2 separate regions of the Homo sapiens genome follow, and region 2 is linked to region 1. The links come from fine-mapping of genetic effects on plasma protein levels. A gene starts in region 1. The other region holds a variant in brackets. All regions are shown on one strand. Distances are between the middles of the regions.

Region 1 (8,960 bases):
TTGGACCACAACCTCCTCAGTTATTCCCCACCTCATAGTCTTCTCTTTTCTTGAATCCTTTAGCTATCCAACAGAATTTCCTGTGATAAGGGAATTTTTCTTTATTGGTGCTGTCCAAATTAGGGGCAACTAGGCAACTAAGCTCTCCATGTTACTCATTTTTAATTAATTCAAGTTGAAATTGAAGTAGCTACATGTGGTGACTGGCTACCATATTGAACAGCACAGCTCTAGCCCCTGGCCTCTCTGTTTCCTCTTCCATCCTGTCCTGTTTTCCTTCTTTCTTTGGCATTGTCGCCCTGGCCCATCATATCAGCCACCCACTCCCCTTTCCTTCTGTCCCACCTCCTGGAAAACACTCTCAACTTGAGATTAATCCAACTGTCTCTTTCTCTAGGTCTATCCAAAGGCTGCTGGGCGCTGCTGGGGAAGAGGGCATGTGTGTCTCATGGCCTTGCTGGCTGCCATTCTTTCTCATAGATAGTCACAAACTTCAATAGGCCCTTTAATTCTGCCCAGCAAGCATTATCCTCTTCTCTCTAATGACCTCAAGCCTCCAGTGCTCCCAGCTCCTCCCCCATCCTCAGCAGATGGTGTCACTTCCTATTTCATTGAAACAAGAGACACTTGGAGACCACCTGACCACCAGTTTTACAAGCATAGTTTTATCTGTCTTCCACCTCTCTCCTCCTGCTGGCTCCAGTTCCTATCAACATTTAGGCATGGTCAAATAGCCTTATCTTACAAACAACAATAAAAAATCCCAACCTTCCCTCAATCCTATGTCACCTTCCTGCTGTGACCCTCTATCTTTCCTGCCACTTATATTCACACTTTCTTGAAAGTTGTCTACACCTGCTATTTCCACTTTCTCACCTCCCGTTCACTCCACAACCCCAGACAGCCTGGCTTCTGTCCCTACCACTCCCTGCAACCACTAGTCAAGGTCACCAATGACTTCCTTGTAGTTTGATCCAAAGGACTTGTTTCAGATCTTATCTTGACCTTTAAGGCATGTGACTCAACACTGCTCAGCACCCCTCCTTCCTTGCAACGCTCTTACCCATTGGTTTCTATAACACCCGAGTCCCCTGGTTTTCCTCCTCCTCCTCTGGCTACTTAAAAGTTTTCTTGAAACTGCCGCATTCTCCCCCTCCTAGGGTGATCCGTCTGGCTTCACAGGTAAGACAGTGTGCCAGGAACGGTGTTTCCGCCTCTCAACGCATTCCTTGCAGAAACACCTGGTGATTTGCTTTCTCACCCAAAATCTGCACTGTTGCGTTTTGAACTCCAGTTTGCTCTGTGGATCCCGCTGCTTAGAGCCTGACATGCCTTCACGGGTGTGTATTTATCACCGCCACTTTAAGAACTTCTCACGACACTTGGACATCTGTTTTTTTCATTTGTCCCCTCAACAGACAGGCTGCGTTAGGAAAGGACACTGATGAATTAGAAGGGATGGAAGAGGCTGCAGAGTGGTCAGAAAACAATGTCCTATGGGAAATCATTAAGATAACTGGGAACATTTTGCCCAGAAGAGATAAAACTGAGGGATGATAGAGGACTGGTTTCAAGAATCTGAAGAGGCAGAGAACCTTGATCTGGGCTGCTGTGTAGCGTAGGGTTTGGGCCACCTGCAGACTTAACAGAGAGGGGGGTTTGGAATGGACGTAGAGGAGTTCCACCGTATTACAGGAGGTTCTAGACCTCCTGGATACAAGGTGAGTAAGACAGTCCTGCTCACCAGGAACTACTAAAGATGATAAGCGTAGACCTAAGTGACCACAATAAAACTGGAAGGTGACCCCGCTCATCCTCTCCTGAAGACCCCTGGCCTAAGCTCAGCTGGCAATGTAGAAAAGCCACACTCTACCAAGAGCCATTTCAAACTTACTGCCATGCAAGGGCCATCAAAAGCTCTGTGGACATAGGCTGGGCGCGGTGGCTCACTCCTGTAATCCCAGCACTTTGGGAGGCCGAGGCGGGCAGATCACTTGAGGTCAGGAGTTTGAGACCAGTCTGGCCAACATGGTGAAACCCCGTCTCTACTAAAAATACAAAAAAATTAGCCAGGTGTGGTGGTGGGTACCTGTAATCCCAGCTACTTGGGAGGCTGAGGCAGGAGAATCGCTTGAACCCGGGAGGCAGAGGTTGAGAATGCGCCATTGCACTCCAGCCTGGGCAATAGGGCAAGACTCCATCTTAAAAAAAAAAAAAAAAAAAAAGGCTCTGTGGACAGAAACAACATTCAGGAGGAAGGCTTGGAAAGCACTTCTCAATCCAGTCTTGTAGATGCTCCAAAAGGTACCCCAGTCAGCTGAGCACCCCAATTTGCTTCTTTTCCATTCCTCTTTGCTGGAATGTCTTTTCCTGACTTGGGTTTTGATGCGATGCCATCAGCTTACATTCAGGGGGATCACAGAAACTGTCCAACCGAGCTCACTGTTGTGACTGTTTTGGGGATGTTGTCAGGGACGTTTGCTCATTACCCCATACTGTGTTCCCTTTCTGGGCCACGCCCCCACAAGAAATTCCTATCTGATTTTAGTACCAAGAATAGTTGTAATTCCCTTGAGCAGTAGGTCTGTTTTTATCTCATGGACACTGGGAATTGTGTAATGAACATGGTCTCCTCATTTTAGCTGCAGGAAAGCTTAGGGACAAATTTGTGGCCCACTCAGAAGAGGTGTAGAGGTTGGAACTCCAGGGTGCATTGGACCTGTATCCTCCTCTCGACTTTGTCTCCCTTCTTAGCTTTTCTTTGTTCTCTTACTTCATATTTTACTGTGCAAAACTGAGAGCATACAAGCAAAGATAAATAAAAATCACCTGTAATCTCATTATTCCGAGATAACCACTATTAACTGTGTTGTCTTTTTATGCATACTTTTTAAAAAATTAAAATGACATTATACTGTGTGTTTTTAATTTGCTTTTTTCATATTATAATATGTCATGAACATCTTTCCCTGTAATTAAGTGTTCTCTAAATGATTTAAAATTTCTGTATAGATCAAGCGACCTCATACTAACAGCTAACATTTCTATATGCATGTACTATGTGCCTGGTTTTATGCATATTTACATTTGCATACATGAGAAAGCCTATTTATATGTGTTACAGACCTGCAATATGTATGTCTATATCCCATCAGCTATAATATTCAAATGTGTCAACTCACGTGATGCTCACAACCCAGTGGGGTAGAAAGTATTATCTCCCTTGTACAGATGGAGGAAACCAAGGCATAGACTTTCCATAGTCACACAGCAGAGGCAGAATTTGAACCCAGGTACCCTGGCTCCGAAGCGTTTCCTCCTAAGAGCTATGCTGCCTTTCAGTATACCATTGCGATTTCACAGGTCACCATGGTTAACCATTTCATTTATTTCCTTTGACCTCACTTTTAATTTGTTATTGTGTCATATTTTATGTACCCTTGTAAGTTACCTGAAATCCTTTCTGCCACAAGGTGAGGTAAGGCATAAATAAACAGTGCAGAGTGTGGTAAACGGCACAAGAAGGCACAGCTAAATTGCTACCCCGGGGTAAGAAGATGAATCCAGGCTGTCCTGCAATGGAATGGATTTATTTTCTTGAGCTGTGGTGAGCTCCCATCCCTGGAAGAGCTGGCTTGGGTGGCCGTCTCTCTGGGAGGCTGGGGAAGGCCTTCTTCCAAGGAGACGGAGCTGGGCCAGACGAGCCCCGAGGCCCCTTCTTAGATTCTCAGGGTTTATGAAAATGCCAATAAGACAAACTGAGGCACTTAATGGAGCTAATGCAGCAAGGCAGCCCTTGGGCCGGAACCAGGACCTGGGGCTTTTCATCCGGGTCTATTACTGGACCACACATCTACAAGTAACAAATAAACGAGCAGAGATTCCGTTCCAAACTCTCGGCCCAGTGTATTCCTTTCCCAGAGCTCTCTGGCTGCTGTTGCAAGATGACCAAAGGATGCTGTCACTGTCCTCAGTCTTTTTATTGGGGCGATGGAGAATGAGGCAAGGAGGGGCTGGGTGGCCCCGCAGATGCCCCATGACACCATCATTCGGCAAGGTTATGCATTTGACGAATGCCCTGCAGTGGAAGGAGCCCAGGCTTCTCTTCCTGTTTTTGATGTTTACTTGGGGGTTGATCTTGTGCGAGTTTCTTCAGCTCCCGGGACCCTCAGTTTCCTCATCTGCAAAATGGAGTTAATACAACAGCAAAGCTGCTGTGGAGGTCCCATGAGCTATTACAGGGCTTTGCACCCTTAAAAATGCGGTTGAGGAAGTACCGATACGCCTGCCTCAGGGGATCTGGGGAGGGCTGGGCTGTCCCCATGCCTGAGACCAGGCAGGCCCGTCTTGGAGGGGCGGTGGCCAGCGTCCAGGTGCTGCCAGCTTCCTACCCCTTCAGCCTCCTGCCCACCACTGCTCCCTTGGCTAGAACGAAGCCGCGTTCCCGACAGACAGGCTCACGCACGGTGATATCCGTGGGAGTGCGGGCGAGCAGCCCCTCCTCGCCGGACCCCGGGGGCTTCGGGCAAAAATGGAGAGCAGGCAGAGGTCACATCCTCCTCCTCTTCCTCACGCTCCCGGGCTGCGTGCCCACAGGGGCACAGCCCTGTGCGCGGTGCCACCGGGGGCCATCAGGCTGGGTTAGAGGAAGGCCCGACCTCCGCGCAGCAAAGAAAACAAACACAGATGTGTTTGGCTGGGACCGGGAGGGAGAAAGTGGCCCCCTTCCCCCGCCCGCGCGCTCCCCCGGGCGTGAGGCTCTCCGGGCGGCGCGGGGCGCGGGCGAGGCTGACAGTCCCCGGCGGCCCCTCCTCCCCCACGGGGTGCGCGCCTGGCCCGGCCCAGCCCCCTCTCCGGGGTTTCCCCGGGTGCTCTCCTCGCTTTCTCTTTGTCTCTGCTGTTCTTTCTCGGGCTCCCGGGTTCCCACCCGCCTGTGCTCTCCCTCTCGGGCGTCCGGGCCGGTTCCCTTTAACTTTCTTCTTTCCCGGGGTGAAAACTTTGCTCGGAGCTGGCGGCAGCTCGCGGACGTTATTGGCCGGCGCCCCGCCCGGCGGCCCCGCCCCCCGCCCCCGCGCTCCCCTCCGCCCCTCACTCCCAGCGCGAGTGGCGGCGGCGGCGGAGCCTTCGGGGGCGAGCGCGCGTGTGTGTGAGTGCGCGCCGGCCAGCGTGAGTGTGTGTGCGCCCCGGGCGCGGGCAGGGCAGCACTCCGAGCTCGGCGGGAGCGGCGGGAGCCGGGCGGCCGCGTAGTCACTCGGGCGAGAGAGGCGGCGGCGGGGCCGGGACCGGGGCTGGGGCTGGGGCAGCGGCGGCCGCGCCGGGCATGGAGCTGGCAAGCCCGCGCTGAGGCGGGACGCGCCTGCTAGCAGCGAGCGAGAGGCTCTCCGGCGACCGGCGCGCGGGCTCCCCGGAGGGGCCAGGCAAACTTTTCTTTCTCTTTTGCCCCCTCCAGAGGTAAAGTCCCGAACGCGGACTTTCCGGCGGGGACGCGATCGGGGGGCATCTGAGAGGGACCCCGGGCTGCGAGACGAAGGGGCGCGGGCCGTGCAGAGTCGGGGTCCCCCAGCTCTCCTGCGCCCGAAACTTGGGGTGCGAGGGGGGCTGGTCGCGGACGGGGAGACCGGCTCAGGCATGCCCCTCGGGCGGCGTGGGGGCGGCGGTGGCGGGGAAGCAGAGCGTTCTCCCGCCGGGCGGGGAAGAAGGGGCGCGAGCGGTGCGGACTTGGAGGGCCCCGGCTTCGCCGCCCGCGGGACTTTGGGGGAGAGAGGCGGGCAGTCGGCTGCGGGGTGGGTGCCCAGGAAGCCGGGCGTTCTCCCGCATCTCCGCTCGCCACCCCGCCGAGAGCTGGAGGGCGCGGGGCGGGCTGGCTGAGCGCAGCTCCCTTCTCTCCGCAGGCGCCTTCTGCGGCAGGCGGACAGATCCTCGGCGCGGCAGGGCCGGGGCAAGCTGGACGCAGCATGATGCGCGCAGTGTGGGAGGCGCTGGCGGCGCTGGCGGCGGTGGCGTGCCTGGTGGGCGCGGTGCGCGGCGGGCCCGGGCTCAGCATGTTCGCGGGCCAGGCGGCGCAGCCCGATCCCTGCTCGGACGAGAACGGCCACCCGCGCCGCTGCATCCCGGACTTTGTCAATGCGGCCTTCGGCAAGGACGTGCGCGTGTCCAGCACCTGCGGCCGGCCCCCGGCGCGCTACTGCGTGGTGAGCGAGCGCGGCGAGGAGCGGCTGCGCTCGTGCCACCTCTGCAACGCGTCCGACCCCAAGAAGGCGCACCCGCCCGCCTTCCTCACCGACCTCAACAACCCGCACAACCTGACGTGCTGGCAGTCCGAGAACTACCTGCAGTTCCCGCACAACGTCACGCTCACACTGTCCCTCGGCAAGAAGTTCGAAGTGACCTACGTGAGCCTGCAGTTCTGCTCGCCGCGGCCCGAGTCCATGGCCATCTACAAGTCCATGGACTACGGGCGCACGTGGGTGCCCTTCCAGTTCTACTCCACGCAGTGCCGCAAGATGTACAACCGGCCGCACCGCGCGCCCATCACCAAGCAGAACGAGCAGGAGGCCGTGTGCACCGACTCGCACACCGACATGCGCCCGCTCTCGGGCGGCCTCATCGCCTTCAGCACGCTGGACGGGCGGCCCTCGGCGCACGACTTCGACAACTCGCCCGTGCTGCAGGACTGGGTCACGGCCACAGACATCCGCGTGGCCTTCAGCCGCCTGCACACGTTCGGCGACGAGAACGAGGACGACTCGGAGCTGGCGCGCGACTCGTACTTCTACGCGGTGTCCGACCTGCAGGTGGGCGGCCGGTGCAAGTGCAACGGCCACGCGGCCCGCTGCGTGCGCGACCGCGACGACAGCCTGGTGTGCGACTGCAGGCACAACACGGCCGGCCCGGAGTGCGACCGCTGCAAGCCCTTCCACTACGACCGGCCCTGGCAGCGCGCCACAGCCCGCGAAGCCAACGAGTGCGTGGGTGAGTGGGGTGCGGCGGCGGAGCCGGCGGCGGGTGGGGCCGCGGGCGGGAGCTGCTGGGCCTCGCAGCGGCGAGTTCATAGGAGCGCGGGTCGAGGGAACGGCGGGAGGCGCGTTCGCCGATGCCCGGGACCCGGGAGGGCTCAGAGCAGGTCCACTCGCTCGCGTGGCGCTCGTGGTGGACGCCCGAATTTGCGCCCAGTGCTCTCTGCGAAGCCAAGAAGCAGCAGGAGAAATGTTCCCGGGAGGGGGTTTGGCAGAACATTTGCAGATAGGTCTCCGCTAACCCTGGATCCAAACGCAAACATTCATTGCCTTCCCCCTCGTTGGGTTGGACGCTGGGATTCACCTGCACCCACCCCCCTTTCCCAAGGCTGCAGCTGGGCTCGCGGTTGGGGACCCCGGCCCAGTTCCTGGGAAGTTCCAACTCCACACCTACAAATCCCTTGGGAGATGGCAAAGAACTGTTTGTAGTTTGGGGTCAGTTCGGTACCCGACGAGTATCACTCCTGCCCTCCATTTGTCTTTTCATGATTTGAAACTATTTTTGTCTCTCTTTTGAACAGCGTGTTTGTGTTAGCAAAAGAAGAATGATGTGATTTCAATTAATTACTATCTGCTGATTACAACGGAGCGTTCAGTAATTATTTTAAACGAATTCAATTCTGGTCTAAAAAAGTATACCAGATTTTTTTTATTAGCTTCAGGCTTTGGTGAAATTAAACAGTTTTGAATTAACTAAGGGTCCAGCTTCTCACTTTTTAAATAGGGTTTCATTTCCTGAAAGAGAAATCTGACAAAACCGGGTGAATACGGCTGGGTCAGAAATGAAGCTAAAAAAGGATACGTTCTGCTTCTGAATTGGACGACTTTGCTGCTGCAGAAGCTCTCAGAAATCAGTTTCTCCCCATAAAAAGAAAAAAAGGGTGAGGGGAGGTAGCAAGACTACACCTTACTTTTTCAGTATGGGAAGTAAAGCTCCAAAGCCCACATTTATTTGAGCGAAAATTATTTAGTCTGTAAATGTCCCATTTGGTGTGCATCCTTTATGAACGTACAGATTTTTCCTCTCCATCTCCCCATCTCAAACAGCCAGTGTGAGGCTCTTCAATTGCTTTGCCCCTCTTAGGCACATTTCAAAGTTTGCTGGTCCCCACAAACACACGTTTTGAGGTCTGGTTCTGATTAATTGTGTCATGTTGTTGTCGAATAGTTTGTGCCTCATGACTGTGGATGCAGAGTTTTGAGCAAGGGAATGGAAAACATGTCTTGGAGGGCCGGATCGCCGCAGAGGCCCAGTCAGGCGTCCTGGTCTGAAGACGCCGGGCCTCCCGCCTCCTGTTGCAAGGGAGGCCTCCATTTTTACGCTCGTGTCCCGCTCTTGCAGACATAATTGTTTGTCCCCTTTCTTTTAAGGATCAGAACTAGTTTCCAGTCTGAAGACACTTTTCAAGATTTCGCAGAGAGAGAGAGAGTGTAGTTACACTCCGACTTAGTAGTCTTCTAGAATAAAATTCCTTTGATCTGCTCAGTTCCCTCGGAAATGTTGGTTTTTCCCATCTCTTCTTTTCCCCCTCCTTCCTCTTTTCTTTTCTTCCCTTTGTGCGTAAAAGCCCTTTATTGACATTTAAAGGGATTCCCAGGGTTTTGCTATCAGTTTTAGTTTGTATGTGCATATGAAAGATAACTTTGTCTTGTCACCATCAGGGTCTAATTGGACAAATGCAAGTGAATACATTTAGGCGAATAAACTTGATGTGGTGGTGAAATTTCTCTGGCTTGAAGATTTGCCTTAGCGTTGGTATTGTTCAGATTCACCACCCACCCCCAGGTCTTGCCGTCAGTTTGGATGTGGACACGTAACCTGCGTTTGTTATAATGATGGTCATGCACTTGAAATAATCTCTATAGTTTGGGATTTTGTCTCTTGACCAAAGCACTAACTATGCACACAAATTGGATTGACCTTTTTTTTTATTGGCTAAATTG
Region 2 (8,000 bases), 69 kb after region 1:
CATTCTTTTTATGAGGGGTTTTCTTGTTGATTGTAGCAAGTGGAAGTAGGTGTAGGGAGATAAGTTGTTATGGTGTCTTCAAAAATAAAAACTAACAAATAAGCCGAGTGCAGTGGTCCTTGCCTGTTGTCCCAGCTGCTGGGGAGCCTGAGGCAGGAGGATTACTTGAGCCCAGGAGTTCGAGTCCAGCAGTTTGGGTAACATAGTGAGACCCTCATCTCTAAAAATAAAAATAAAACAAACAAACATTGAGATCATTCGGTGGGTATTTCTGAAGCCTCTGTCTCATGCTAGTTTGAATGCTAAATGATTGAAATACAGTGGAGAGAACCATAGGGTTCCTGACCTCAAGGCACTCACTCTAGAGGGGAATGTACACCAGCAATTACAATACAGGGCTGTGAGAGGTTAGAACGGGTGCTATGGAAGCAGGAGGAAGAGGTACCAGAGCCACTTGCGGGGCAGGATCAGGGAACGCTTCCTGGAGGAAATGAAATTATCACCAAACAGATCATCACTGTGACCACCTACCTTCATGATCACCATCATCACCATTGATGTCATCATCATCATGCTCACTGTCATCAATATCACTATCTCCTTTACCATCATTGCCATCATCATGCTGTCATCATGACTGTCCTGTCATCTTCACTGTCCTCATTACCATCACCACCTGCACCATCACCATCATCACCATCATCGTTGCTGTCATCATCACCATTATTGTCACCATCATCATCACTTCCCACCTCCTTCTCAATATCACCATCAGCTTCACCATCACCATCAGCATCAGCACCGTTGTCATCAGTACCACCACTAGCATCATGGCAGCTAGCATGCTTGACCACCTTCTGTGTGCCTGGCACCATGCAAAGCTCTTTGCACACATTGTCTCATTTAATTTCCACCGTGACCCTATGAAGCCAAGTTGTTATTCTCACTTTAGAGGTGAAGAAAATGAGGATCCTAAAGGTTACACAGTTTGACCAAGGTCACAGAGTGAGTTTCTCAGTGTTAGACTCAGGATTCAAGTTCAGGCTACCTGTTGTGGAACCTTAGTTTGCCAACCACCCTAGAAGGATGAGTGGGAGGTGGCTAGGTGGGGTGGGGTCTGACAAGGAGCCAGGAGCATTCTGGGGAGAGGGAGATGCAGGCACAGGGCCACAGAGAGACAGAGAGCTGGGGGCATTCGAGACCCAAAGAGGCTGTGTGGCCAGAGTGCTGAGTGTAAGAGGTGAGAGATGAAGCTTGAGTGTAGGGCAAGGTCTGATCCTGCAAGCCCTGATTGGCGTTTTCTAGTTTTGGACTTCGTCTTGATGACAACAGGAAGACCGTATTGAAAGGTTTTAAGTGGGAGGGGACCGTGATTGGCTTGTGCTGTAGGAAGATCACTCTGGTCACCCAGTGGGCAGTGGAGCTGAGAAGGGGGAGACTGAGGCAGGGAGACATCATTTGGTGTAGGAGTTTGAAGCATTCATTGCTCCCACATACCAGAGTCCTGGGATCCTTAGACATCCTCAGAGCTCCCTCCAGGTGCTCTTCTCCACAATTACCCAGAGGATTGAATCAAGCTGAGAGTTCTCAGCTCTCTTTTCTCGAGACAGCTGCTCATCCTTTGTTTGGAACCCTGGGCCTGTGCCGATTTGCCCAGTAGCTTTCACGAACGGCTTTCACATAAAGCCAGACTTGTGCTTTCTAAACAGTTGACCCTGTGTGAGGGCCGTGACCTTGCAGAATACAAAACAGGAGAGGTTAGATCTAAGTCCTCCACTGAGTGCTCCTGGGGCATCCTGCCCCCAGGGAGGCTGTGGTCTACCCAAGAGCAGATGTAGAAACCCCAATTCGACCAGGAGGCTGAATGGAGCCACTTTGTCCCATGCTCCCCACTGCTGTCCTTCCTCCCCAGAGGCAGGAACGAGGCTGCCTCATCCAGAGCTGAGACGCATACTGCTGTGCTGGAAGGAGAAGGCCAGAACCCCAGCTCACCAAGCTGGCATTGCTGGTGCACGAGCCACCCAGTGGGGACAGGCAGGGGGCAGGAGGCGGGAGACAGGGGACCAGCTCCCGACGGCCGTGCCGAGGGACTTCTGTGGGTGCCCAGTGGGTGTCCATCTGCAAGTTGGCTTCAAGGGTCTTTTGGCCACCTCTTCCATGACTTGGAATTTCTTATTGTCCTGCTCTTAAAGATTTTGAGGATCCCTAGTAAGTGGGGATCAGGAGTTCTGGGTTCTGGGTGTGGCTTTATTACCAGCTCACTGGGTAGGGTTGGGCCAGTCCTTTCCCCTCTCTGGGCTTCAGACTCCTTCTTATGAAACAAGGGATTGGCCTTAGGTGTCCTCTGAGGTCCCTCCAAAGCAAGCCGCTCTATGTTCTCTGGAGCTCCTAGCACCCCAATGACACACACCAAATAGTTGCCACAGACGGATGGGTGGATGGGCTCTGAGTCCCACCTCCACCCGCTCCTGGGTGGGTTGTTCATTTGAGGACTGAGACCCCAGGGCAGACCCGGAAGCCTGGAACACGTTCACATGCCACAGATGGAGGATTTTTCCGCTTCAATTATCTTCTTTGCAGGTTTTGGGTTTTCAGACAGGGCTGGCAGCTTGACTGAGCCACAGTAACCATTTCCGAGCTGGCTGGAAGCATGCATGGAGGACCTCAGGGTTCAATCTGTTGTTCTCCTTCCAGTATCAAGAGTCTGAACGATTCCAAATACGGAGAAACAACCTCTCTCCGGGTTCCTTGTGGCCAGCCATCACGAAACCCTCGCACCTGTTCACCCTGCAAAGCGTGATATGTCTGAACTATTTAAACGGTTGGGTTTACTGATTAATTTCTCCTCAGCCTCATGCCTGGATCCTGGGTGTCCGCCATCGGAGTGCTGGTGACTGTTGTGGAGGCAGGACCCCCAGCTTAGGGTACAGAGTCTCCTGTGTTGTGGAGAGCTGAGAAGACCAGGTATGAGGAGCCTCATTTGTGCTCTAGCTTTATTATTAAGTTAAGGGTGCCAGGCGCGGTGGCTCACGCCTGTAATCCCAGCACTTTGGGAGGCCGAGACTGGTGGATCACCCGAGTTCAGGAGTTCGAGACCAGACTGACCACCATGGTGAAACCCCGTCTCTACTAAAAATACAAAAAAGTTAGCCAGGTGTGGTGGCGGGCACTTGTAGTCCCAGCTACTCGGGAGGCTGAGACAGGAGAATCGCTTGAACCCGGGAGGCGGAGGTTGCAGTGAGCCGAGATTGTGCCACTGTACTCTAGCCTGGGCGGCAGAGCAAGATTCCATCTAAAAAAAAAAAAAAAATTAAGGACATATGTTTTGGCTATTCTCCAATTTCTACTTTTTATACCTTGTTAAACACATTAGAGCAATGTCCTAGGTGACAATTTCTTGTTGATAACGCACAAGTTTTGCCAGAAGACTGTCTCAGATGTTCCCTGTTCTCTACCCCTGGTGGGTTTTTCACTGCTGGGTGGAACCTAAATGTTCATTGTCCCTTCTGAGAACACCTGCTGTGTGCTTCCCCTGCCTGCAAAAACCACCTTGAACGTGATGGGTGCTTTCGGACTCTCAGGGCCCTTCTACCTCTGCTCATCCCAAACACCACGGCACTGGAGACAAAGCTTTTCGTTCGCAGCCGCAGCCGCTTGCCTGTGATCATCTTTTTCCAGTTGGGGGTTTCATCTCTC[T/C]TTTACAACCTGGCTCCTGCTACCGACCTCCTGCAGTTTCTGGCGGGGACTTGTTAGAGTGGCCAAACAAACTTTTTTTTTTAAACACCAACAAGCTATCTGGACACAGTAGGGTAGTTACTAAGCAAAATTATCACTGCTCCCTTCTATGCCCCAGAAGTCCTGAAGCCCACAGCCTGTCTATCCTTTTGAGGCCAAAGGGAGAGATGGGCATTTGAGGACATGGTGGGAAAGGCTGAGGCTGGAGGACGGGCTGTGGGTATGTGAGTGGGGAATGGTGTTGACGCCTGTCTCCTCCCAACTTATGGCATTGATCATCTTTTGGTAGGAGCCGGGCTACCAAACTCATCTTTTTTTTTTTCTTTTTCTTTTTTTTTTTGAGATGGAGTCTCACTCTGTCACCAGGCTGGAGTGCAGTGGCATGATCTCAGCTCACTGCAACCTCTGCCTCCTGGATTCAAGCGATTGTCTTGCCTCAGCCTCCCAAGTAGCTGGGACTACAGGCATGCACCACCATGCCTGGCTAATTTTTGTATTTTTAGTAGAAATGGGGTTTCACCATGTTGGCCAGAACAGTCTCGATCTCTTGACCTCATGATCCGCCTGCCTCGGCCTCCCAGAGTGCTGGGATTACAGGTGTGAGCCACCGCGCCTGGCCTAACTCCTCATCTTTCTTACTTACCAAAGCAGGTAAGGACTCTCTGTGACTCACTAAGCAAGAAAGTCATGGATGTTTCTGGTCATTTAGGAGCAGAAAGAGGGGGATACAGATGCCGGTTTATAAAGGCTGAGAGTGCAGGAGGCAGCCACTCAGGAGACCTTGCTAAGGCTGGCTTCCCGCTGCTTGTCTTCTCTGGCCATTTCTCTGCTTGGGTACAGAAACCAGGCCAAGTGCCTGGGGAACATTTAGCTTTTTGTTGTGAGAAGGGAAGAATTAGAAAGTCAAATGCTCCTATGGACTGGGAGCCAAGAGAAGGGGGCAGGGAGGCTGGCAGGGCCTTGAGGAGGCTTGGCCACTCTGAGGGTGGGTGCCCATCTAAGGCAAGCCTGGAGCTGGGTGGGCAAGAGCCGGGCGGCCCCGCTCCTCCTTTCCATGTCCTCCCCTCCACCGGGACCCTCAGCCTGGGCCCAGCAGGGAAACCCAGGGCGTGTGAAGCCGACCAAAGGGAGATGGATTGAAAAACAGCCAGCTGAGGAGGGCACTGGCTGCCAGGCGGAGGACTCGGCAGTGCCAAGTGCAAGGTTTCTGGAGAGCTGCTTATGTCTCACTGCCTACAATAACACCTCATTTATTTGGCATTATCAGAGAATGAGCTGTTTCCCTTAAGTGACTTTTCCTCCCCCAAACTTTAAAAATGGAAACATTTTATGTGTCAAACTTTTTATTATTATTTAATTGTGGTAAAATATACATAACATAAAATGTACCATCTAAACCATTTTTCTCTATGTTTTAGAGACAGGGTCTCGCCCTCTCCCCCAGACTGGAGTGTAGTGGTAGGATCATAGCTCACTGCAGCCTCAAAACTCCTAGGTTCAAGGGATCCTTCTGCTTCAGCCTCCCCAGTAGCTGGAACTACAGGCTCAAGCCACAGTGCCTGACCAAAGTTAAACTGGATCCTACGTTTAACCCCCCGCCTTTTTTTTTTTTTTTTGAGATGGAGTTTCTCTCTTATTGCCCAGGCTGGAGTGCAATGGCACGATCTCGGCTCACTGCAACATTTGCCTCACGGGTTCGAGTGATTCTCCTGCCTCTGCCTCCTGAGTAGCTGGGATTACAGGCATGTGCCACCACGCCCGGCTGATTTTGTATTTTTAGTAGAGACGGGGTTTCTCCATGTTGGTCAGGCTGGTCTCGAACTCCCGACCTCAGGTGATCTGCCTGCCTCGGCCTCCCAGAGTGCTGGGATTACAAGCGTGAGCCACCGTGTCCGGCCCGTTTAGCCACTTTTATGTGTACAGTTCAGTGGCATGAAGTACATTCACCATCATCACCATCCGTCTCCAGAACTTTTTCAACTTCCTAAATTGAAACTCTATACCCCTGAAACAACTTCTTCCTGCCCCAGACTCTGGAAACCTCTAATCTACTTTGTCTCTAGGAATCTGACTACTCTAGCTACCTCATATCAGTGGAATCATACAGTAGTTGTCCTTCGGTGACTCCCGGGTTCAAGCGATTCTCCTGCCTCAGCCTCCTGAGTACCTGGATTACAGGCATGCACCACCACGTCCGGCTAATTTTTGTATTTTTAGTAGAGACGGGGTTTCACCATGTTGGCCAGGCTGGTCTCAAACTCCCGACCTCAAGTGATCCTCCTGCCTCGGCCTCCCAAAGTGCTGAGATTACAGGTGTGAGCCACCACACCTGGCGACTGGCTTATTTCATTTAGTATCATGTCACCATGGTTCACCCAAGTTGTGTAAATGTGTCAGAATCTCCTTCCTTTTTAAGACTGAGTAATACTCCATTGTATGGAGAGGCCACATTTTCTTTTCTTCTCTTTTTTTTTTTTTTTTTTTTTTTGAGACGGGGTCTCACTCCATCTGCAACCTCTCCCTCCCAGATTCAAGCGATTCTCATGTCTCAGCCTCCCGAGTAGCTGGTATTATAGGCGCAAACCACCATGCCTGGGTAATTTTTGTATTTTTTTAGTAGAGACAGGGTTTCATGATGTTGGCCAGGCTGGTCTCAAGCTCCTGGCATCCAGTGATCCACCAGCTTTGGCCTCCCAAAATGTTGGGATTACAGGTGTGAGCCATGGCGCCCAGCCTGGATAGGTCAAAATTTTTTTTGAGACAGGGTATCACTCTGTGGCCCAGGCTGGAGTGCAGTGGTGCGATGTCAGCTCATTGCAACCTTTGTGTCCTGGGTTCAAGTGATTCTCGTGCCTCAGCCACCCATAGCTGGGATTACAGGCGCACACCACTATGTTTGGCTAATTTTTGTATTTTTTTTTTGAGACAGAGTCTCGCTCTGTCGCCCAGGCTGGAGTGCAATGGTGCAATCTCAGCTCACTGCAAGCTCCGCCTCCCAGGTTCACGCCATTCTCCTGCCTCAGCCTCCTGAGTAGCTGGGACTACGGGTGCCCACCACCACGCCCGGCTAATTTTTTGTATTTTTAGTAGAGACGGGGTTTCACTGCGTTAGCCAGGATGGTCTCGATCTCCTGCCCTTGTGATCCGCCCGCCTCGGCCTCCCAAAGTGCTGAGATTACAGGCGTGAGCCACTGCGCCCAGCCAATTTTTGTGTTTTTAGTAGAGATGGGGTTTTGCCATGTTGGCCAGGCCGGTCTTGAACTCCTGGCCTCAAGTGATCTGCCCGTCTCGGCCTCCCAAAGTGTTGCGATTACAGGCGTGAGCCACCATACCGGCCTGATAAACCGCATTTTCTGTATCCATTCATCCATCCATGGACATTTGGATTGCTTCCAGCTATTTGCTATTGTGAATAATACTGCTATGAACATAGGTATTACCCAAGCTTTGTTGAGTAAGCTTAAGTAACAAATAACTTATTAGAAATATTTTTCTTATTCTAAATTTTATTTATTTATTTATTTTAGAGACAAGGTCTCACTCTGTTGCCCAGGCTGGAGTGCAGTGGCACGATCACAGTTCACTGTAGTTTTGACCTACCAGACTCAAGTGATCCATCCACCTCAGTCTCCTGAGTAGTTGAGACCACAGACAAGAGCCTCCACACTTGGCGAATTTTCTTAATTTTGGTAGAGATGGTATCTTGCTATGTTGCCTAGGCTGATGAACTCCTGGGCTCAAGTGGTCCTCCTGCCGCAGCCTCTCAAAGTGTAGGATTACAGGAGTCAGCCATTGTACCTGGTAAATTTTAAAACATTTAGAAAATGTGGACAAGTTGGCTGGGCGCGGTGGCTCACGCCTGTAATCCCAGCACTTTGGGAAGCCGAGGCAGGTGGATCACTTGAGGTCAGGAGTTTGACACCAGCCTGGCCAACATGGTGAAACCCTGTCTCTTCTAAAAATATAAAAATTAGCTGGGCGTGGTGGCGGGCGCCTGTAGTCCCAGCTACTTGGGAGGCTGAGGCAGGAGAATCACTTGAACTTGGGAGGCAGAGGTTGCAGTGAGACGAGATTGTGGCACTGCACTCCAGCCTGGGTGACAGAGCGAGACCCTGTCTCAAAAAAGAAAATGTGGACAAGTTAAAAGAAAAAAATCACTCATTATCCCATTGTCCAGAGAAACTTCTAGTATACATACTATTTACATTTTGTTATATACACTTCTGTTTTACCTTTTAATGCATACAAACATTCAGTTTCTACAA

Evidence for each region. PIP is the chance, under the fine-mapping model, that this variant and not a neighbour inherited with it causes the effect. Protein levels are from the aptamer-based SomaScan assay of Sun 2018.
Region 2: its variant is fine-mapped to the plasma level of the NTN1 protein (Sun 2018, PIP 0.95).

Annotation. Positions count from the first base shown.
Region 1 is chr17:9,016,420-9,025,379 of GRCh38, forward strand. NTN1 (netrin 1) reads left to right here and starts at 5,091. Exons shown (of 7, transcript NM_004822.3): 1 at 5,091-5,166; 2 at 5,892-6,972. The coding sequence starts at 5,955. RefSeq lists enhancers at 638-687, 4,489-5,032 and silencers at 4,453-4,502, 4,553-5,342.
Region 2 is chr17:9,086,120-9,094,119 of GRCh38, forward strand. The region is part of intron 2 of NTN1 (netrin 1); the gene reads left to right. Among named protein-coding and RNA genes, the nearest start is that of NTN1, 69 kb to the left of the region's middle. RefSeq lists enhancers at 1,537-2,038, 2,039-2,538. The variant T/C (reference allele first, on the strand shown) is at 3,697.